Homo sapiens: one gene and its partners. The protein of the gene in region 1 purifies or fractionates together with the protein of each later gene. This does not show direct contact. Each region holds a gene or a part of one and is shown in the gene's direction. Other genes may lie near its edges.

Region 1 (7,888 bases):
GTATCTCAAGGTCATGAAGCAGTGAGTGGTGGAGCCGGATTTGAATCCAGGCAGTTCGACTCAAGAGCCTGGGATGGTAAAACACAAAATCACATGTGACTCCTTCCATCACCCTAAAGCAAACTTTTTTTTAATTTTTTTTTTTTTTTTTTTTTTTTGCTTTAGCATTTAGAGGTGGTTGGAATTTGGTGGAACCGTCTGTCTTCCATAGAGAGTGTATCAAAATTGGGAGTTCAGGCTCCCCGAATCCCAAAGTGTTGGGATTACAGTCGCTGACGCCTGTAATCCCAACACTTTGGAAGGCCAAAGCAGGCAGATCGCCTAAGACCAGGAGTTCAAGACCAGCCTGGGCAATATGGCAAAACCCCATCTCTACAACAAAATAATAATTCAAAAATTAGCTGGGTATGGTGGCACATGCCTGTAGTTCCAGTATTTGGGAGGCGGAGGTGGGAGGATCACCAGAACCCGAAGTGGTCGAGGCTGCAGTGAGCCATGATTGTGCCACTGCACTCCAGCCTGGATGAGTGAGACCCTGCCTCAAAAACAAAACAAAATTGGGAGTCGCAAAGGCAGTTTCCTGGTTCCTGAACCTGCCTTTCCATTTTCCTTCCCTAGCTGTGAATACGGCCCAGGGGTGTGGCCTGAAAGTGGCCTGTGTCTCAGCCGCCGTATCGGACGAGTCAGTGGCTGGAGACAGTGGTGTGTACGAGGCTTCCGTGCAGAGGTAGGTGTCTGGGTGCTGGCTCTCTCTGTGGCCCTGTAAGCCATGAACTCTGAATATCCAGAGCCTAGGCCTGTGGAGAGGCTTAGGTTTTGGCCCCCACAGTGTGTGGGAGGAGCCCCAAGAGGGCATGACCCCACCTTCCTCTTGGCTGCCCAAGGCACAGACAGCATAACTTTTCCTGGGGTTAGAGATGCTTCAGGTTTGGGGGAGTGCTAGTTCTGTGGTAGCTACGAAAAAGGTATATGGCTAAGGAGCAAGCACTAGAGAAAGGGAAGGCCCCTTAAGAGAGGAGTCCAAGCTGGGCATAGTGGTGTGAGTCTGTAATCCCAGCTACTTGGGAGGCTTCAGTGGGAGGATCACTTGATACAAGGAGTTCGAGACCAGCCTGGGCAACATAGTGAGCCCCCATCTCTAAAAAAAATTTTTTTTAATTAAAATTTAAAAAAGGACCTGAAGGGAAGCTGAGCAAACCCCAACTTTCCTTCCTGGGGATGTAACCTCAGCCTCCCAGAATAGTTTGTTCACTGTAGGGAAGCCTAACTCCTCCTCCCCTGTTGCCTTTCAGACTGGGTGCTTCAGAAGCTGCTGCATTTGACAGTGACGAATCGGAAGCAGTGGGTGCGACCCGAATTCAGATTGCCCTGAAGTAAGTGACGAGGACGAGGAGGACAGAAGGAACGGTCTGTGTGGGGTCCCTTCTTCATCCACAGCGTTCCCCAGCATTTACCTTCACAGCCGCCCAGGGTGGAAGGCAGCACCAGCAGGACCTGCTGGCCATTGCAGCTTCTTAACTGAAGGGATGCTGATTCGTTCCTCACCTCCCAGCCATCCGCTTTACAGATAGGAGAAATGAGGTTGGAGAAATGGGGTTTTAAAAGACCTTATGACTTGGCCCAACTCACTGAGCTGGCTGGTAGCAGAGCCAGGACTGGGACTGAGACCTCCTGCCTCTCAGTGTGTTTGTTCATTGTTGCTGTGGCTTTTGTCTTTCCATCCCATCTAGGTTTCATTGATCTGGATGGAAGTTGATCACTGGGGGCTGCAGCCCAGATTGGGTCAATACACACATGGTTGTTCTTTTTGTTTTCTTTTGTTGGGGGATGATATGATCTCAATTTTTTTTTTTTTTTTTTTTTGAGACAGGGTCTCACCTGTCACCCAGGCTGGAGTGCAGTGGTGTGATCTCAGCTCGCTGCAACCTCTGCCTCCTGGGTTCAAGCGATTCTCCTGCCTCAGCCTCCCAAGTAGCTGGGATTACAGGTGTGTGCCACCACGCCCGGCTAACTTTTGTATTTTTAATAGAGATGGAGTTTCACCATGTTGGCCAGGCTAGTCTCAAACTCCTGACCTCAAATGATCTGCCCGCCTTGGCCTCCCAAAGTGCTGAGATTACAGGCATGAGCCACCACACCTGGCCTTCAATATTTTTTAATAGGAATTAGTTGACAACATTTCCATATCATGAAATTTCACCCGCATTTATGGGTTCTTTTTAAAAATTCAGACAACTGGCTGGGTGTGGTGGCTCACACCTTTAATCCTGACACTTTGGGAGGCTGAGGCAGAGGAATCACTTGATTCCAGGAGTTCAGGACCAGCCCAGGCAACATGATGAAACCCCATCTCTACTAAAAATACACAAAATTAGCTGGGTGTGGTGGTGAACACCTGTAGTCCTAGCTACTTGAGAGGCTGAGGTGGGAGGATCACCTGAGCCTGGGAGGTCGAGGCTACCATGAGCCCCGATCATGCCACTGCACTCAACCTGGATGACAGAGTGAGACCCTGTTTCAAAACAAAAAAAAAATTTTCAAACAATTGGCAGCTCTAGCTCTACATCCCTGCATGGCAGCAAAGCACTGGGCCTGTGCTCTAGAGCTCACCATAGGCCCCAGGGCAGCCAACAGCCACGTCCTGTGACTTTTAATGGAGAGAAGGAATGAGAGAGATGAGTGTGTTACTAATAGGTACTTCATATGCCCCTTTTCATTTCAGGTATGATGAGAAGAATAAGCAATTTGCAATATTAATCATCCAGCTGAGTAACCTTTCTGCTCTGTTGCAGCAACAAGACCAGAAAGTGTGAGTATGTAGCTGGACAGGTGTATTTCATACCCTAACCCTCTGGAGTTACCCCTGGGGGTCACTTTTCTGCCCTGTCCTGATCCAGTTATGGGCCTTGTCAAGGCACTGTGGGTTTGTACTGCATATGACTGTGATGCTGAATGTCGGTGCTGTGCATGTGAATACAGGCACAACGGCAAGCACACCAACTGTAAAGACAAGCACTCTCTAGATGACTGTGTGAATTCCTGCCCCATTACGTGCTGAGCACCTGCTGCATGCCAGCTCTAGGAATGGGGTGGTGAGCAGATCCTTCCTGGGCCCTACCCTCCTGGACTTTGAGCCTCATGGAGAAGAATGGTCACAGTCTGTTTTATCTTCTCCTAAGCTCAAGTGTTTCTTGCAGAGAGAGATAGGTCTTCTGTTTCCAAGAGTCAACACCAGTCACTGCTTCTCTTGGAGGGGTGTGACTGCGTGTTACCTTGATGCTGGTAGGATGCAAACACCTGCTCTGTCTGCCTGTGGGCTCCTCCCATGGTAGATGGGTTTATCCTTTATTGCACTCATCTGCCTCCAAGTTTTCTCTGATCGTAAGGCCTGGAGGGTGGCAACAGAAGCTTATGTGTCTGTGGTCTACACTCAGCCAGCCTGTGAGGGTGGCACATGTGGGAAGAAGAAAGGGCAGGAAGGCGGACAAAACGGAAGGAAGACAAGATGGGATGCTTGGGTCAATTTCAGTCTTCTGCCCACACAGACAGTGCCAGGCTGAATAGCCTCCTCCATAGCTCACTGGTACTCATGCAGGGGCATCTGTGGGATAATGCCTAGAAGTGAAGGGTCTGGACCAAAGGACAAATGCATCTGGAATTTTGTTCGATTTGTCAAAGTTCCTTCCAGTGTATAGGGGCCTGATTCCCCAGATTCCTCACTTCTACAAACTCTCATCCACTGTTGTTTGCTTAGGGATTTCAGCAGCTGTTTAGTCCAACATTTTAGCCCCAGACATGGGCTGACCCAAGATTTCCTGCGGTTCTGTCTCCCTCTAGGAATATCCGCGTGGCTGTCCTTCCTTGCTCTGAAAGCACAACCTGCCTGTTCCGGACCCGGCCTCTGGACGCCTCAGACACTCTAGTGTTCAATGAGGTGTTCTGGGTATCCATGTCCTATCCAGCCCTTCACCAGAAGACCTTAAGAGTCGATGTCTGTACCACCGACAGGAGCCATCTGGAAGAGTGCCTGGTAAGGGCCGTGTCTGGCTGGCTGGCTGGCTGGCTGGCTGGCTGGCTGGCTGGCTGGCTGACCGGCCTTCTGTGTTTATGGGGATTGGTCTACCCTGAGCTTCAGGAAGAAGGTTCGAAGGAGACGCAGGTTGTGCTATCAATCAGGCTCATCTTGGATTCTAGGCAGCGAGGCTTCCACAGGTGAATGTTGTTCTCAGACTTAGGGTGGGAGGGAAGGAGCTCTTTCACAAGAGGAAGAGTAATGGACCTGAAAGTGCCTTTTAAAACTGCCAGAACCTGGAAAAAGCCACATACTGCAGCTTTACTATACAGCATGAGAGATTAGATAAGAAGCACAGACTATGGCTGTGTGGTGGCTTATATCTGTAATCCCAACCCTTTGGGAGGCCAAGGCCAGAGGATCACTCAAGTGCAGGAGTTCGAAAGCAGCCTGGGCAACACAGCAAGACCCCATCTCTACAAAAAATAAAATTAGCCAGGCATAGTGGTGCATGCTTGTAGTCCTAGCTACTCTGGAGGTTGAGATGGGAGGATCCCTTGAGCTGCAATGAGCTGATCATGCCGCAGCATTCTGGCCTGGGCAACAGCAGAACCCTGTGTCAAAAAAAAAAAAAAAAAAAGCACAGAGTAATGAAAGCAAACACATAGGCATTCACATCCCACCTTTACCACTTGCTGTATAGCTGGATGACCTTGGGCAAGGTACTTAACATCTCTGATCCTCATTTTTCTTATCCCTAAAATGCAAATGATAATGCCTCCATCATGCCCACTGGAAGAATCTTTATAAGGATTGAGATAGCACCCGTAAAACACCTATTCAAGTGTCTGATCCACAGTGGGTTCTCGTTTAGTGGGGCCATTGCCAGCCTCCTCCCTGAAACTGACCTTCTCCGGCTTCCATCTCTCACTGCATTGGCAGGAGTCAGGACTGGGGATGAAGTAGCCCAAGTACATTTTGTCCTAAGAGACAGGCAGACCCAAGTGCAGACAGATACTCAGCTTTCCCATCTGTAGAAGGGGGATTTATATAATAGCTAACTCGGGCTTGTGATGTACAAGTGAATTAGAAGAAGTAAAGGGCTTTGTTAACCCTGATGCCATTTAGTGTTAGAATATTTTAATGATAACTCAACTGTGGGCACAAAGGAGCCCAAGTGTGGGCATTATACCTAGAAGGTCGCTCCACTCATGCTCAGATCTGTACTGGGAGCTTGTTGTGTCCCCACCCCTGTGTCTGGGGCTGGGGATTCAATGGGGAACCAAACAGACAAGGTGCCAGCATTGATGGCTAAGATGTAAACAAACTGTGAGGAGGGCCGTGTTGGAAATGGATGGGTTGAAGTGATGGAGGAAAATGTGGGGTATGTGCAAAGGGGAAAAACAAGATGTATACACCTCTCCGAGCCTCTCCTGCCTCCATTTCTGGAAGCTGGAATGTAGAGCCTCTCACTGCCTTCTTGGAGGGCTCGCCCCTTTCTCCTGCTGTAAATCACAGACCTTTGCCCAGAGAAGGGAATCTCTTTGCTCTCCATCCTTGCCTTGATCTGCATGCGCTATAAAACCCTTCTCTATCATGGCATTGTGGGGCCACATCCTTGGATTGTGGCCTGGGGCTGTCACCAGCCTTGCCCTTCCAGCTGTGTCTCCTCACAGTCTTCAATTCTTAGTCTCAGTTCCCTTATCTGTAAAATCTGGCTCATACTGCCTTCCTGGAGGTGGTTCTCTGAAGACTAACTAAGGCGCTGAAGCAGCGCTTCAAACTGTGCCATGCACACAAGTTACCTGGAGCTCTGGCTAAATGCAGATTCTGATTCAGCAAGTCTGGAGCAGAACCTGAGATTCTGCATTTCTAATAAGCTCCCAGGTGAGGCCAATGCTGCTGGTTCCTGGATCACACTTTGGGTAGCAAGAATGTAGAGCAGCAAAGTGTTTGCAGTTTGTGCTCACTGGATATCGGTTCCCATCTCTCCTTCTTAGCTGGGTACAACACAGCATCACTGCTATTGATGTTGTTACTGACAATAATGCAGTAGTTAATACCAGTAGGTTGCAGTTTATATGGCAGGCACTGAGTTAAGCTCTTTACATGCATTATCTGTTTTTTTTATTTTAGACTGAGTCCTGCTCTCAGTCTCTGGAGTGCAGTGGCGTGATCTTGGCTCACTGAAACCTTCACCTCCTAGATTCAAGCAATTCTCCTGCCTTAGACTCCAGAGTAGCTGGGACTACAAGCGCCCACCACCACACCCGGCTAATTTTTGTATTTTTAGTAGAGGCGGGGTTTTGCCATGTTGGCCAGGCTGATCTTGAACTCCTGACCTCAAGTGATCCGCCTGTCTCCACCTCCCAAAGTTCTGGGATTACAGGTGTGAGCCACCACCCCAGCCCATTATCTCTATTGATCCTCACTCCAACCTTGCAAAATAGGTAGCGTATTCCAGTGGAGAAACTGAGGCACAAAGAGGTGAAAGACCTTTCCTGTCACAGTTAGGAAAGTGGCAGAAGCCGTATTTGAACCCCAGCAGGTCTCCCTCTGAAGTCCACACACGTCAGCGCCTCTGTGTTGTCTCTTTGCCAGCACAGGGCTCCCTGGAGCCCAGAGATGGGGGTGGTGACTTGAAGGGGTTGGCAAGCCTGGGCTCCTCCAGCGAAGCATTCCCTTGGCCCTGGGCATTCCTAAGCGAGAAGAGGCTCAATCCTATTTTCTTCTCCTAATTGGATGCCTTTTATTCCTCCTTCCTAATTGAAGTCTGGTCATTGCTGGTTGCCATGGCAGCAGCCAAAGCGCTCATCTCACTGTGGCTTGTCTCTGCCTGCGGCCAATGGGAAACCTCCTTTCCCATATACGGTGGGGACATGGAGTGTCAGGCTGTCGTATTCTGGTGGCTGGAGGAGGAGAGGAAGTGAGATGGGAGGAAAAAGGCCTGTCCTCTCCCACGCAGAGACTCCGGACAGCAGGATGTGTGGAATCCCCAGTCTGTTTTCAGCCAGGCAGCAACAGCATCTGTACTGAGTTGAGTCTATGTGTCTACCAGTGGGCTAAGAACTTCATGTGCAGTATCTCATTTAATCTTCGTGATGGCCCCAGGAAGATAAGGGATCAAGGCCCAGAAAGGCTAAGTAAGCTGCCAGGTCATCCAAGGAGAAAATGGCAAAGCCTGGATTTGAACAGAGACTCCAGCTTCCTTATGTGTAGCCATCTCACCATGCTACTTCTCAGGGGGTTACTATGAGTGTCTCTCATGTCCCCAGACCCAGATTACAGGTTTGGAGGAATACACAGCCCACCTTCCCAATATCGCAGGCAACAGTTCCACCAAATGCCCTGCATGGCATCACAGGGAGCCTAGTTGCCCACTGCTCTACTGCTGAGCTCAATGCCACCCAGCCCGGGCTCTCTCGAGCTAGCCTGCTTCTCAGGCCCCACTGACGTCCCATGGTTCACCATTACAACCGTTCCCTTGCCTCCTCTCACTTTGGCATACTAACTTGGCAAAACCCAGCCCTGTCAAAGTGAACTCTCCACCCCCTCCTCTCCAACTGAGCAACTGGAAAAAAAAATGCACACAACCACGCTGTATGGTATCATTTGGAAATGGTGATCACTCACTTCCCATGAGCCCTCAATGCTGCCCAGAAATTATACTGTATCTCCCTGGACCATTTACTCACCCACTCATCACAATGACTAATTCATACTTCTCTCAGGGAGAGAAGAGAGGACAGACTCAGAAGAGGGCCCCCACACCATATCTGGCTGTTCTTGTAGGTTCTGCCATTTCCCTGGCTTCTGAGGGTGGGCCTTCTGCACTCCTGTCTGAGGCCACCACCCCCATTTTCTCGCAAGGACATT
Region 2 (7,888 bases), on another chromosome or scaffold:
AAAGGAAAAAAAGAATGTTGAAAAATCTGTTCTCTGCCCTCAGGATTGCTGCTGGGGAAGGAGCACCATGAGCATGCCTCTGCCCCACTGCTGCCACCCCCACCCACCTCAGCACTGTCCTCCATAGCCTCCACTACGGCAGCCAGCAGTGCCCACGCCAAGACAGGCAGCAAGGACAGCAGCACACAGACTGACAAGAGTGCCGAGCTCTTCTGGCCCAGCATGGCCTCCCTTCCCAGCCGCGGCCGGCTGAGCACGACCCCTGCTCACAGCCCCGTCCTGAAACACCCAGCGGCCAAAGGGACCGCAGAGAAACTGGGTATGTGGGCTACCCCACCTTGATGCCCCTGAAAACTGTGGAACTGTCTGGCCTAAGAGAATCTTTTGTTGAGCTAGAGAGGAAGCAGGGGCACCCATCAGCTCTTACTCTATGGGGATGCTATTCTAATGCACTTAGGATATGTGTGCCCTTTCTTATTACGGGAATAAATATGCATATAGACACATCTAGTTTATTACTATTTGAAATGAGTGCACGGCTTGAGACTACCCTGGCAATGCATACTTTTTAACTAACCTTTCCCCGGATGGAGTGACAACAGACCCTCTAAGGGGCTGAATGCCCTCTGGTATGTTTGGGAGCCAGAATTAGGCACCAGGTACATCAAAGGCACAAGTTCACTGTTGCCTTCAGGGCTCTAACTTACCAGGGATTCTGGCCTCAGTGGAGGACATTGTGATGGAAGGAGAAGGTAGATTGACCTGCAGAGTCGGTTAACGTGTGGCACAGCACTTGGGCCAGGACTAACGAGCTGTTTAAAATATTTACGGGAAGACAACTTGGGAGAGGTGATCTTTGCAGTGAGTCCCTAAGTGTCCTGGGTAAGAATAGACCTGGCCTCTTAAGGCACTCCTCTTAAGCAAAGGAGTACCATGGCCATGGTCAGTGGGATCCCACAAATGTTCTTAAATGGGTAAGGCTTTAAGTAGCCAGAGAGTACCCAGCCTACCATTGGCTTCTCCACATCCTAAAACCTGAGACTAATCATGGTCATGGGGACCTCCCTTTTCAGGAATTCTTTTGAGGAGGTGCAGGCTCTGTGGGCCCTAAGTTAACTGTTTCCTCCAAGGGGGTTGTTTATTTCATTTTTCAAAGTAGACAAGTAAATACAATGTTGTCACTTTTTAAAGATGTGATTCTTTTCCAAGTAAGCCAGAGAACCTGTCAAAAGTGCCTAGCTCAGAATATGCACCTGATAGTTTTGAGTAGAGGGTGTGAGGGGCTCCTGTACAGAGTCCCACTGTCATCCTCACCTTCTGAATCCTCTCCCTTCACCATCCTGGTTTGTATTTGTGTCTGAATCCTGGCCCAGTCATTCTGCATGTTCCCACTGTGGGCTGGATCATCTCACATGCCCTGTGGTGAGAATCCTGGGTGTGCAGTGGTATCGGACGTGGGTCCATTTTAGAGAACCTGGAAAGCCTATGCCCCTCCTGAGGAATGGGCAGCTGATGTTTCCCCTCTATTTGGCAGAGAACTCTCCTGGCCATGGGAAGTCGCCTGACCACAGAGGCCGGGTCAGCAGCTTGCTGCACAAGCCCGAGTTCCCTGATGGAGAGATGATGGAAGTCCTCATCTAACTGCCATCCCTGTGGAATTTCAGTACAGAACACTGACAAACAAGGAAAGCGGCAGAGAAAGAAGAAAGACCTAGAAGGTTGTAGATGGGAAATCAGGAATGATTTGAACTGATAAAGATTTCAGACTCATAAGAACACATTTTATAAATGTTAAACACAAAAACTACATGACTGAAGATAGAAGAGAATGCGATGGATTTTATTACACATGGTGGAAGAGAGAAGAGGCGTGTAGGTTTGCAAACAAAGTTAAGAAATAGGAAACTGAATTTTTCATTGTACAGAAAATGTATCTCTTGGGGAGGGCCTGTGTACCCCCATTCTCTGATTATAAACAGATAAACCCAAATGTGGATCATCCTTGGAATACCCCCATTCTCCTTGCCTCTTAGCATGTTTGATTTAAGAAAAGCCTCCAGGAAATCTTGAGAGCCTGTCTTGGCATAATGCAGTGTCACCTGTGCCAACCATGGGGTGTCCCGTGAGTGTGAGTGTGGCAGTGAGAAGAAGCATCGAGGGCGAGGGGAATATGAAAGTTGGTCTTCACCTAATTACCTGTTTGGTTTGGATTTTCAAGAGATGATTGGGCTTCTTAGCTTTTCTGAATTCTGCAGTATTTTCTAAACAGGATAGATTATGATCTCGGTCCCCATCCATCCTAACTTCTGAGTTCATCTCTGTCTCTGCTTTACAGTCTTTAATTTTTTGTTGTTCCTTCATTTTTTTCTTTTTAATAAGACATAGCAGAATTCCTTAGGTATGGGATTTATGAGACCAGTACCTGAACTGTCATCATTCCTACTGTGTTTGATAGTGACCAGTAGGACAAAGCCACGTGCCGACTTCCTGGCTGCTTCACCTTTGCATAGCTGGGTTGCAGCTGCGAACCTCATTCTGACTGTGAACTAAGCAAGCTTTGAGGAGGCAGGAGATTCCGTGGGTCCCTGTGACATATTGCATTAAGATCGTGGCACTTGCTTTTTTGTCTTTCACATCGGCTGTCTTGCAAGGAGCTTGACATTTCCAAATTCCATTGCTCTGTTTGGGGAAGACTTAGGACAGCACTCCAGGAAACAGATGACAATTTACAGACAGTTGTCTCAGTGGTTTCCAGAATCTCACCAGCCTCCCGTATAGCTTCTTGTATTGAGGCTCATGAGCGTATTCACACTCTTTCCTCCCCCGCGCACGCCTCTGCTTGCTCTCGATCAGCATCCAGACCTCCGTGGCACCAGGTTGCCTCTGTTGTGAACTTCTTTTGTAACCTACCAGGCCAGTTGTATATACAGTGTTGTCAGGTTTTTCCGGGTTTCAGTTTTGAGGCAGTTTATTCAAAGTGAGACAGAAGTGCCACGGAAAAGAGGCAGGAGTGTGTTAGGTGGTGGGTCCATTAGACCTCTGCTGTGACATTGCATATTCAGCTCTGCAGACACTGGCTTCCTTTACAAATCTAAGAGATGCTGGATTAGAAAAGAGGAGAAGCTCATCGGGCCATCAGAGAGATGCTCCTACAGGGTCCTGATGTTTTTGTACCTCCAGGTCAGCTGGATCGCTGTTTTCCCAGTTCCCTTTGCTCATGCTTACTTAGAGGAAGAAAGAAAGGGGGGTACCTCTTCCAAGTACCTTCTAAATGAAACACTCAAGAGAGTGCTACTCAGGAAACTTTGCTTGGATCCTAAAATGGACTGGTCTTGGGTGTGTAACCCCGGTGAAGTTATAGCCTCCCCAAATTGAGGTGACAGAAGGAAGACAAGAGGTGTAAGCTGGAGAGGGAAGGGAAGAAATCAGTGGCTTTGGCCAGCCTCTGTGCCACCCAGTACGACAGAGGAGTGGGAACTGGCCCTCTGGGGCTCTGCTTGGCCATAGGCACTGCACATTGTGCCACCTGCTCATCACCTCCTCTAGTCTCACACTGAGCATCGGAGTACCTGTTGTGCAGACAGGAAAACTGAGGAGCTCTGAGAGGCTGAGCATGGAGCTCACCCCATGCCATAGGGTGTGGGAAGAGGGCACAGGAGGCCTCATCCATGGGGGAAAGGGTTGAGGATGGACATGGGTGGGGAGAGGGCATAGACATCCCTTCCTAATCTCTGTTCCCACCACATTTCATAGGAGATGAGTTAGGAGATGACAGCTAACTCTCTTAAGGACATTTTGACCCCAGTTTATGTTGGGGATGGACCAGAAAGGAAAATGTCTAGAGATAGGAAGGTAAATCAACTCTGCCAGCCCCTACCATCAGGTCTGGGCCACCCCAAACTTGGGCTGCCTCCCTTAGACATAGGTTAGAGTGAGAGACCCAGCTGTTTCTCCCGAAGCCTCGTCTTCATGCCCCAGACACCTGATTGCCCCAATCAGGTGTCAGACTTGCTTGCTCTTCGAGGTCCCCCTGAGCTGCCAAGTGTTTTCATTGTAAACAGACACATCGCCATGTTTCAGGGCTTCAACGGCATTGTATTTTGGACTTTGACCGTATTTTTTTTCTCTTAACCTACTGAGACTCTTCCTTAAGAACAGGATCTATAGCTTTAAAATGTCTTCTTCTATGGGAAATTTCCTGCCAAGCCAGGGCACTAAATTCTTTCATCATTAGAGCTTTCCTGAAGTCCGGCCATATACTGAGTACCTGCTCTGAGTTCTGGGCAGCTTACAATATCTTAAACAGATTTTCAGAAAAATAATGCAACTATATTTTCTAGTGTCAACTGTATGCAAACAGTGTGGTAAATACCTTTTAATTAGTCCTCCACCCACCTGGAGTACAGGGGGTGCGTTTATTATTCTGATTTCACTGATGAGGAAATGGGCTCAGAAAGGTTAAGTCCCTTCCTGAAATCTCACAGCCAGGAGAAGCTAGGATGATTTAAAACAAAGTTTGGAGAGGCACTGGGCATAGACCCTGGCTGTACAGCCTCTAACATGCGGCACTGCATCTTGGCAGTCTCTATGCCTGTCTGTGATGTGTGTGTGCACGTGTAACTACACACACACACACACACACACACACACACACACACAGCTATCACACATCTCAGAGCCTAAGAAATAGGACTAAGCCCAGAACTCCTAGAATCACCTATAAATGCTAGGCATAGATGGAAATTATTGTGTTCCACCAGAAGCACAGCTCCAAACTATACCTAAAAAATATTTCTGCACTTCCCAGAGACCTGGACTTCAAACTTTCCCAGTGGAGCCTGATTATAGAACTTGAGGGTCCTATCTCAGGATGAAGGGGAGAGGCCCTGGCTTCACGGGAAGGTATTCCAGCATTGTTCTGCTTCACCCTTGACTGCGTTGTCTGGCAGTTTCTGTGTGCTGCCAGGATATTATATGGAACTGGAGAAGTTGGAGTCAGGTCTCTGAAGCTAGAGTTTCACTAATTAGATGCCTCTGTACATGAGAACTATTACTGTCTGCAGGTCCATATAGCTAAGCTGCCAGGAAAAACACATTATCTTCCAAAACTTTCAGAGCATGTGCAGAACCCTTTCTTAGCGTTTTCTTCTCAGCATTTTCTCTGCCTCCCAGAGGCTGGCAGCCAGTGACACTGCAGAGTTCAGCATGTTCTAACCATGCACGCAGGGCAGGGGCTGCCTTGGCCCTCCTCAGGCTTTCGTTGGGAGAGCAGGCAGTGGTGGAGCCCTTCTGGGTGCAGTCCTCTGGGGTTGCTCTTTGGAACTCATGTATGAGTTTGACTCCACAAGGCTTGGCATGGATACCAAAACAGTTGCAACAAATTAGTTCTGAACCTGGAACAGAGAATTCAGTGCTTCTGTTACTCAGGAAGGAGGTGTTCAGAATGCCCCGTGCAGAGCAGCCAGTCATTACTCTTGTTTGTTCTCACCTGGGTGCGCACCCTCATGATGCAGTGGCTGTAGCACCTTCATGCCAGGTGCTGAGAGAATGGGAAATTCTTCCTCCCCATTGACCTGAGTCCCAGAGACTTAGGGACACAGACTTCAGGTGAGGCTGCGGACCTCAGAAGCAGTGGATAATAGATTGGGGCATTAAAAGCTTTTGAGGCAGGGGGCTCATGTTTTGACTGCAGGGAGTTATGCTGAGCAAAGAGATGTGTTTTTCAAAACCAGGGTTCAAAACCAGTGTCCACGCTGGAGTAAGTGGAGCATGCTTCTCTGTGTTCTCTGAATGATCTTGCACTCCTCTTAAGCAAAGGAGTACCATGACCATAGTCAGTGGGATCCCACAAATGTTCTTAAATGGGTAAGGCTTTAAGTAGCCAGAGAGTATCCAGCCTACCATTGGCTTCTCCACATCCTAAAACCTGAGACAGCCTTGGTATATGCTTTATAAATGTTTCTTTTCTTGTTGTTTAAGTAATTAAAGTGTTTAAAATGTCTTCATTAGATGTGACGATTGTTTAATGAGTTTGCCTCTGACGTGTGGCTCCATGGGAGATAGGCAAAGTAATTAAGAAGTTACCAGAAATTGGTCGGCTGGGGAAATGCAAAAGTTAGCATTTCAGTAGTGAATTTCTCCTGGAACAAATGAGCAATTTTTCCTCTTTCTCTTAAGTAGTATACCCTTTTCTCACTTAGTAATTTAATGGTATATAAAGACATGTGTATAAGTGAGTGCATACATATGAGGTATGACTATAGGGTTGTTTGTGGGAATTTCTTTTCCTAACATACAGAAGATCAAAGTGTTCATCTCACCCCGCCCTCCTTAAAAGGTGTCTTTTGGGAGACTATGTGCTCATTGACTATAGTGCTGCCAAGTAAAAATATCTTGGGAACTCTTCTACTAGAATGGCCTTCAGGGCTTGGCATGTTCCTTTGGTTTACCCTTAGAGATGAGAAATCCTCCTCCTTTGAGGATGGATTTAAGTTCTGGAAATAATCTCAAGTGCTTGATAGCACAGTTGGATGAAAAAAGATGGCAATTAAGGTAAGTTACACCATTTTTGTTTCTAAAAAAATCCCTAAGAAATTTCTTGGAATGAGTCTTTGGCCTCAGAGCCTCTCAAAGTGTCCACTTCAAGGGGGGATCATCCTCATTAGCACACAGATTTTTAAAAATCAATTCTCTTGCCATGCCTCCTATGTGTTCACATCTCTGCATACACTACAGATATAAGTGCATAATCATTCATATAAACATCTGGTAGGTATTCTGTAAAACTGTGTTTACTTTAGTGCATGTTATTGTCATGTTATGATGTGACTGGGGTGTTTCTTTGTCATGAAACTTTGCTTCTTCACAGAATTAGAATACTGCTCTCTCTATATTGAACTACATATACAGCGTTTTCTTGTATCAGCCCCCAAAGTCTGGATGCCCGGTGTTGTGTTTACATGTGATTGTGCCTAGGAGTCTGTTCACATAGAGACACCTGTAAGTATTTATTACAAAACGGAATGTAAGCAAATATATCCACATTGGTTTTATTTGAATCAAGGTGTTTTTTTGTTTTTTGTTTTTTTTCCTTTTGAGGAGGAACAGGGAGCCTCCTCCTCCATGAGCACTTACAGAATTGTGTAAAATTCTGTGAAACAGTGGTAAGCATGGGCACCCGATTTCAGCTGTCCTGCTGCCGCTGCCCTCCAACCTGCTCTGTGTGTGTGTGTCGCTGTGCTTGGTGGCAGTGTGCCGTGCTCGTGCCGGCTCTTCCCAGCAGACTGGTATCTGGCTGTAACGTTTGACGTCTTCATATTGCCAGTCTGTATTGAGGGGTGATGTACATGGCCATACAGCCAAATGGGTCTGTGTACCAGTGTGGGGATTCCAAGAACACTGCCTGTCCCCCACAGCAAATATTGATGCTGTTGGTCAGCCAAAGATTTTCCTCTCCTTTGCTGCTTAAACTTGTGCCTTAATATTGTACATAATAAATGGATAAAATGGCAAAATGACTCTTTTCTCTCGCTTGCTCCTTTCTTCCTTAAAGAACTTATAAACTGATGCTCAATAAATGTTTCATTTCATTGTACCCCACTTAATGTTTTGCTTCAGAGGCCCTCGGCTCCCCCCTTGTGGGCCTCACGCTGACACCAACACGCAGCTCTTGACTCTGAGGAGGAAATGAATCATCCAGACCATCGCAGCTTGCAGCCCGCCCACTCCTGGCTCCTCCAGACAAATAAGGAGAAAGGAAACGCAGGGAGACTGTGTGCCTGGGTGTCCACTTTGATCACATGTGAGTGTCCACTTTTGAGGTTCCTTAGTTCAGAGCCTGCAAATGATCACTGTAAACTGGCTCTGTCTCAGGAATTCACCCAGGCAG
Region 3 (7,888 bases), on another chromosome or scaffold:
CCAATGTGGCCCAGGGAAGCCAAAAGATTGGACACCCCTGTGGCTGAAGGAGTGAGCCACAGGCTTGCTGTTAACCCTTTCCCCCTCATCCCCTTTTCAGTACATTCAGACCTATTTCATCATTTTAATTGCTTTTTTTTTTTTTTTTTGAGACAAAGTCTTGCTTTGTCACCCAGGCTGGAGTGCAGTGGCACGATCCCGGCTCACTGAAACCTCCACCTCCTGCGTTCAAGTGATTCTCTTGCCTCAGCCTCCCAAGTAGCTGGGATTATAGGCGTCTGCCACCACGCCCAGCAAATTTTTGTGTTTTTAGTACACAAGGTTTCACCATGTTGTTCAGGCTGGTCTCGAGCTCCTGACCTCAAGTGATCCGCCTACCTTGGCCTCCCAAAGTGGTGGGATTACTGGCGTGAGCCACAGCGCCCGGGCTGATCGCTTTTGATAATTTACTTTTTCCAGGAGTTTTGCTATTAAAAATGTGGTAAATACCCTTGCACACACATCTTTGTCCCCCTTTGCCAGTTTTTCTTTCAGAGTGACACTCAGAAGTAAAAATTGTACACTCTTAGGACAACTTAGCAGTGTCAGTATACATTGTGTAAATTTTTATTTCCACCTATTTTTTCATGACATTTGGAGTATAAACTATTATTAATCTCTAATAAATCAATAAATGTCAGTTGAGATTTGGCAGTAAAAAAATGTCATCTTATTGTTTTAGTTTGCATTCTTCGATTTAGAGAGGTTGATGTGTTAATGACCAGCAGGCCGCTCTTGTCAATCCTGTTGGGCTGTATGCTGCTATATGAGAGTACAGTGCTGTCATGACTGCCCTTTTGTTATTCACAGTTACCTGTCACTGGGTAGTTGTAAGAGTTGTACAGTTGAGATGCTGAGCACATCAGAAGTGTTTTTTTGATGCTCTATTCAGCACTTCTTTTGGTATTCCCATTGAATCCAGTGAACATTTGGATGGAATACTTAGACCTTTTATCAATGTCAATGGCATCCGTTATTGGTTTTCAATATGTTTTTTTGCTTAATGATCTTGAATTAGAAGATAAAGATGTCATTCAGCCACCATATCCAGGTTGATGTAAGAAAATTTTGATTGTATAATACTTGTATTTCTTTGATGGTTCATTACAAGTGTGTATCACTAGTAAAAATGATCACTGAAAATGTCTCATTTTGGTCATAGCAAAGGGTTTTGCTAGCCTTTTGAGTTTTTAATTACGTTACATTTTAGATTAATTTCATCAAATCACTGGAATTAAGAAAACATTATCCATAGAGAATGCCACTTTGAGTGGTTTCTTTTTTCTTTTCTTTTTCTTTTTCTTTTTTTTTTTTTTTGAGACAGAGTCTGGCTTTATTGCCTAGGCTGGAGTGCAGTGGCATGAGCTCAGCTCACTGCAACCTCCACCTCCCAGGTTCAAGCAATTCTCCTGCCTCAGCCTCCCGAGTAGCTGGAATTATGGGTGAGTGCCACCACGCCTAATTTTTGTATTTTTATTAGAGACGGGGTTTCTCTGTGTTGGCCAGGCTGGTCTCGAATTCCTGACCTCAGGTGATCCACCCACCTCGATCTCTCCAAGTGTGGGATTACAGGTGTGAGCCGTGGCGCCCAGCCTGGGTGGTTTCTTTCAAGCTGTAGATGACTAGTAAGAGTCTGAGATCATTTGTACAGCTTGGGAATTTTTCTTTTATTTTTTGTTGAGATGGGGTCTCCCTTTGTCACCCAGGCTGGAGTGCAGTGGCATGATCATGGCTCACTGTAACCTCAACCTCCTGGGCTCAAGCGATCCTCTCACCTCAGTCTCCAGTGTAGCTGGGATTACAGGTACAAGCCACCACACCAGCTAATTTTTTTGTTTTTGTAGAGATGAGGTTTCACTTTGTTGCACAGGCTGGTCTCAAACTCCTGGATTCAAGTGATCCTTCTGCCTTGGCCTCCTAAAGTACTGGGATCACAGTGAGCCACTGCTCCTGGCCTGGTTCAATAAATTTTGATAAGTATATACATCTGTGTAAACCATACCCCCTTCAAGACACAATGTGTCCATCACTCCAAAAAAGCTTCCTTGAACCCCTTCCCAGTGTAGGGGAGGGAAAATAGCCTCTACCCTTCTAAGTTTTCGGTTGGGGCCCCTGTAATAAAGGGTAGATTAACAAGAGAAAAACATGTAAACTTGTTTAATATAAGTTTTATGTGACATGGGAGCCTTCATAAGGAAAGGAAGACCCGAAGAAACAGTAAAACCTGAGTGTTTTTAAATTAGGTTTGATGAAGAAGGAAGAGTTGTGGAATGTGATAGGACAGAAAGGGATATGAGCCAAGAGTAGTAAACAGGGAAAAACTTAACAAGGCCTGTTTGTTCATATTCCTCTGGGTGTTCCTCTATTTTTTTTTTTTTTAATTTTTGAGACAGGGTCTCACTCTGTTCCCCAGGCTGGAGTGCAGTGGCATGATCATAGCTCACTGCAGCCTCAACCTCTTGGGCTCAAGTGATCCTCCTGCCTCAGCCTCCTGAGCAGCTGGGACTATGGGTATGTGCCACCATGGGTGGCTGATTTTTGAATTTTTTTTGTAGAGATGGAATCTCACTGTGTTGCCCAGGCTGGCCTCAAACTCTGGGGCAGAAGTGATCCTCCTGCCTCGGCCTCCCAAAGTGCTGGGATTATAGGCATGAGTCAATGCGCCCGGCCACTCTGTCTTTTGAGATTAAGATGCTGCTATCTTCTGGGTATAGAGAGGACACCTCTCACATGAGGATCCTATGATCTGCTTCAGGGGAAGTCTTTTTTGCACCTGCTGTTTCTCAGATTCCTTCAACTTAAAATATTCAACAATGCCAAGGTGTCATATTTTGGGAGTAGCATGTTCTGAAGCCTGTCATAGTCAGTTCCCTATGACCCTGCCCCAGGTAAATTAATCTATAATTGTAGATTAGTTTTGTCAGTACTTGAACTTCATATGAATGTAATCATACAGTATGGTTTGTGCCTTTTTTGGGTCAGGTTTCTTTTTTTCCACATATCATTTTTGAGATTTATCCTTGTTGTGTGTATCAGTAATTTTTCCTTTTTATTTCTGAATATTATATACCATTTGTTTATTCATCTGTTACTAGACACTTGGGTTTTTCTAGTTTTGGGGTTTTTGTAAATAAAAATGCTGTAAACTTTCATGTGCAGGCGTTTTTGTGAGCATATATTTTCATGAATACTGAGTAAGTATTTGTGAGTGGAAGTGCTGGGTCATATAGTAAGTGTATTTTTAACTTTATAAGAAACTACCAATTTTCCGAAGTGGTTGTGATATTTTACGTTTCTCTTAGCAATGTACAATAATAGTTCCAGGCACTTCACAGCCTCGTTGAAACTTAGTGTTGTCTGTTTTTAAATTTTAGTTACCTTAGTGGGTGTGTAGTGGCACCTCATTGTGGTTATAATTTTGAATTTCACTGAGTGGAGCCTTGATAAAGAATGTTCTTGAGGTTTTCCTTAATTTTTCTACAGGATTGTAGCCATATACAATTGAAATTCATCTTTTATATTGTTAAATTTTTTCTTTAGGTGTCTTTAAGAGTGATTGAAGAGAATAATTCAAAATGCCTGAAAATCCTGCTACAGGTATACTGGATATATTGTTCTATAATTAAATTAATTATTTAAAAATGGAATCTCAAATGGGACTTAACTATTACTCTACTTATTCATCTTGACCCAAGATAAACTGCAGGTGCTGCAGGTACTTGATCGCCTGAAAATGAAATTGCAGGAGAAGGGTGACACGTCGCAGAATGAGAAGTTATCTATGTTTTATGAGACACTAAAGAGTCCTCTCTTCAACCAGATACTCACACTTCAGCAGTCCATCAAGCAACTGAAGGGTCAAGTAAGTTACCCATCAGAGTTTTACATTAATATATTATATTAATATATTCAAACCATCAAAGAAAGATAGAGGAGATAGACAAAGACAAATTATCTTTAAGGACTCAGTTCAGCAAAGAGACTGTATTGGGACCTGTAACCTATAACCTGTGGGTAGCATTGGCATAGATAATTTAGAAATATCAATAATCAATTTTTTCTTTGGTAACTGGATGTGGTGGCATGTACCGGTAGTCCCAGCAACTCAGGAGTCTGAGGTGGGAGGACTGCTTGAGCCCAGGAGTTCCAGGTTGCAGTGAGCTATGATCATGCCACTGCACTCCAGCCTGGATGGCAGAGTTGAGACCCTGTCTCAAAAAAAAAAAAAAAAATTGTGTTTGGTTTTAGAATATGGTTTTTGTACTTATTTAAGTATGTAAAGGTCAGATGCTTTGAGAATTCTCAACATCTTCAAAACTATAAAATAGTGCTTAACTTAAATATATTTTCTTTTTATTTTGAGACAAGGTTTCTCTCTGTCACTGAGGCGGGAGTGCAGTGCTGTGATCCTAGCTCACTGCAGCCTTGACCTCCCAGGCTCAAGCAATGTTCCCACCTCAGCTTCCAGAGTAGCTGGGATAGGTGTGTGCCACCACAGTTGGGCTAATTTTTAAAAATTTTATAGAGGCAGGGTCTCCCTATGTTGCCCAGGCTGGTCTCAAACTATTGGCCTCAAGCAGTCCTCCTACCTCAGCCTTCCAAAGTGCTGGGATTATAGGCATGAGCCACCTTGCCCAGGCGTATTTTCCTTATGAAGTCTTTTTTTGTGTGTGTGTGTGGTCTTTTTTTTTGTGTGTGTGTGTTATTATTATTATTTTTTTTAGTAGAGACGGGGTTTCACTGTGTTAGCCAGGATGGTCTGTATCTCCTGACCTTGTGATCCACCTGCCTCAGCCTCCCAAAGTGCTGGGATTATAGGCGTGAGCCACCTCGCCCGGCCGAAGTCTTTTATCTAACAAGAAGTGATCATGCCCTTATAGCACAATAGTCACACTTCTCTTAATTATCAAATATTTGTTGTCTTTCATGCGTATTCTGATTAGAAGTTCCTTGGAAGCAGAATACCTGGTATTTAAATATATAGTTATGTTTCTTCTACTCATTTACCACACTATCTGGATTCTTCAGGCTCTAATACATCATTATTGAATAAGGGACACATATCACCTCTTCTTAGAGGGGTGCAAATTAGCAGTTGTGGGATTTTTTTTTTTTTTTGGTGCTGAGATTGAACCAGAAATTAATTGTTTTAACTGTCCTCTTGGATTCTTTGTTTTGGGGTCAGGGATGGCAAATTACTTTTAAATCACCTATTCTGGAAGCTGAACTTGAATAGTAGCTATACCATAGATGAAATTTGGGCAGAATTTAAAACATAATTGGAGCTAATTTAGCACAGTTAAGTGAAAATTTACAAAATTTGGGAAAAAATGGTTTTTGCTGATAAACTAAAATGCTTGCCCATTAAGTATTTTGTGAGTGATTTGTTTATAGCCAATTAAGGATTAAATTCTACATGTGTCTTTCTGTGAATTGCTTTCTTTAGACCAGAATTTATACCCTAATTTTAGCACTGCCTATATTGATGTTTAGCTTTCTGTATTTCTCTTGGTCACAGAATATCACAATAGTGAATGCTGTTGGTAGCAACTGAAATTGGCAAAGATCAGCAGAAATCTATCACACTTGTTGGACTAAGAGTGGCTGTAACTACCCTATCCTAATAACAATTCTTTATATTTGTATAGTTTGGAGTTGTTATGTACACAGTCATATTTTATGCATTGGACTGTATAATCCCTGTAGCCAGGGGTTTTTTATTTTTTCTTTGAGGTTTTATTGACATTCATTTTTTTTTTTTTTTTTTTTTTTTTTTTTTTTTGAGGCAGAGTATTTGCCTGGGCTAGAGTACAGTGGTGTGATTATGGATCATTGTAGCCTCAACCTCCTGGGCTCAAGCAATCCTCCCACTTCATCCTCCCAAGTAGCTGGGCCTACAGGCATGTGACACCATGCCCAGCTAATTTTTGTATTTTTTGTTGAGACAAGAGTCTCACTATGTTGCCCAGGCTGGTCTTGAACTCCTGGCCCTGAAGCAGTCCTCCCACCTTGATCTCCCAAAGTGCTGGGATTACAGGTGTGAGCCATCACACCCGGCCTAACATTTATTCTGTTTTTTTTTTTGGAGACAGAGTCTTGCTCTGTCATCCAGGCTGAGTGCAGTGGTGCAATCTCGGCTCACTGTAGCCTCCACCTGCGGGATTCAAGCAATTCTCTTGCCTCAGCCTCCCAAGTACCTTGGAATTACAAGTGTGTACCACCATGCCCGGCTAATTTTTGTATTTTTGATAGCGATGGGGTTTCACCACTGACATTTATTCTTAATGTTACCTTTATTCTACTGTTTTGGCAGTTGTATCAGCCAATGATATTTTAAATTATGTCCACCATAATTACATGATTCTCCTCTTTCTATCAATGTTTAAGTGGCTCCGTGACTCACTGCTAATCTTGAGTAAGTTACTTAACCCCTGTGTGCCTCGGTTTTTAGGCTCACAAAATGGGATAATGATATCTCATTAGATTGTTGTAAGAATTAAATGATAATACCTGCAATCATGCTGGTATAGTACTTACTCATAGCAAGCACTCAATAAGTACAGTTATTATCATTATATACTACCTGTGGATCTTTTGTTGCTCCCCACGTGGAATTGTACAGATAAATGGAAAAAGGTTTAGTGCCTTACACTGTTATGTGACTGGATGCATCTGTATATGTGAAGTGTAAAAAGATGTCAGTGTACATGCTGTTAACTTGGACTAGTGGTAGAAGGCAGGAAATAAGAACAAATTTTAAGCTATTAAACATTTTGTGTAATACTAAATTTAAAAAATTTTTAGCCTTGTGAATACACAGATTTGATCTATCTTTACCTTATTTCTTTTCCATGTATATATTTAATGTGCAAAGTATCTATGTAATGGTCAAAATATATTTAATAAATAGAAACAATTTTTCTATAGATTTCTGTTGATTCTTTTTTTTTCTCTCCAACAGCTCAACCATATACCCTCAGATTGTTCAGCCAACTTTGATTTTTCTAGGAAAGGTTTGTTAGTGTTCACAGATGGTTCCATCACTAATGGAAATGTCCACAGGCCCTCTAATAACTCGACTGTATCTGGGTTATTTCCGTGGACCCCGAAGTTGGGAAATGAAGACTTTAACTCAGTCATTCAACAGATGGCTCAGGTAAAGTTGTATCTTCTCATGGAAATATTTAGCTTCATTTCTCCTGTTTTAGTTTTACAAAGGAGCTTATACTCATTCTTTTTGCTGTAAAATGTATTAGTATGTATTTTGCTTGCTTCTATTTTTATATTGTTAGGAGAAACTGACACCATTTTCTAACCTGTGTGTTGAAAATTTATTGACTTAAAATTACATAAGGAAAGTATCCATGTATGTGGTAAGGAGAGCTTTTTAAAAAAAAATTAACATTTATTTTTTGAGATAAGGTCTTGCTAAGGAGAGTTTTTAGACAATGACTAATTGAACACATCTCTATTCTTGTTAAAATAAGATTTTTGGCCAAGCGCAGTGGTTCACACCTGTAATTGCATCACTTTCTGAGGCCGAGGAGGGTGGATCACTAGAGGTCAGGAGTTTGAGACTAGCCCGACCAACATGGCAAAACCCTGTCTCTACTAAAAATAGAAAAATTAGCCGGGCGTGGTGGCAGGCACCTGTAATCCCAGATAGTTGGGAGGCTGAGGCAGGAGAATCGCTTGAACCCCAGAGGCGGAGGTTGCAGTGAGCCGAGATTGCGCCACTGTACTCCAGCCTGGGTGACACCCCATAATTAATGGAAATTAGAACTAATGTAATTTGGAAAATCTAGAAAACATTTGGAAGGATAATCTGGTTGTAGCCCCTAATACCTAT

Evidence for each region. The genes of interacting proteins can lie anywhere in the genome.
Region 2: the proteins of WWC1 (region 1) and AMOTL1 purify together in Homo sapiens (affinity purification with mass spectrometry; 2 studies listed by BioGRID and IntAct, with this or other methods). This does not show direct contact.
Region 3: the proteins of WWC1 (region 1) and PATJ purify together in Homo sapiens (affinity purification with mass spectrometry; 2 studies listed by BioGRID and IntAct, with this or other methods). This does not show direct contact.

Annotation. Positions count from the first base shown.
Region 1 is NC_000005.10:168,427,415-168,435,302, forward strand, and holds part of WWC1 (protein KIBRA), read left to right. Parts: intron 1-618; coding exon 619-727; intron 728-1,292; coding exon 1,293-1,373; intron 1,374-2,722; coding exon 2,723-2,809; intron 2,810-3,837; coding exon 3,838-4,030; intron 4,031-7,888. UniProt on the Homo sapiens protein: Regulator of the Hippo signaling pathway, also known as the Salvador-Warts-Hippo (SWH) pathway.
Region 2 is NC_000011.10:94,869,155-94,877,042, forward strand, and holds the end of AMOTL1 (angiomotin-like protein 1), read left to right. Parts: intron 1-43; coding exon 44-319; intron 320-1,534; coding exon 1,535-1,641; 3' UTR 1,642-7,594; downstream 7,595-7,888. UniProt on the Homo sapiens protein: Inhibits the Wnt/beta-catenin signaling pathway, probably by recruiting CTNNB1 to recycling endosomes and hence preventing its translocation to the nucleus.
Region 3 is NC_000001.11:61,759,279-61,767,166, forward strand, and holds part of PATJ (inaD-like protein), read left to right. Parts: intron 1-3,579; 5' UTR 3,580-3,614; coding exon 3,615-3,636; intron 3,637-3,734; coding exon 3,735-3,901; intron 3,902-7,000; coding exon 7,001-7,195; intron 7,196-7,888.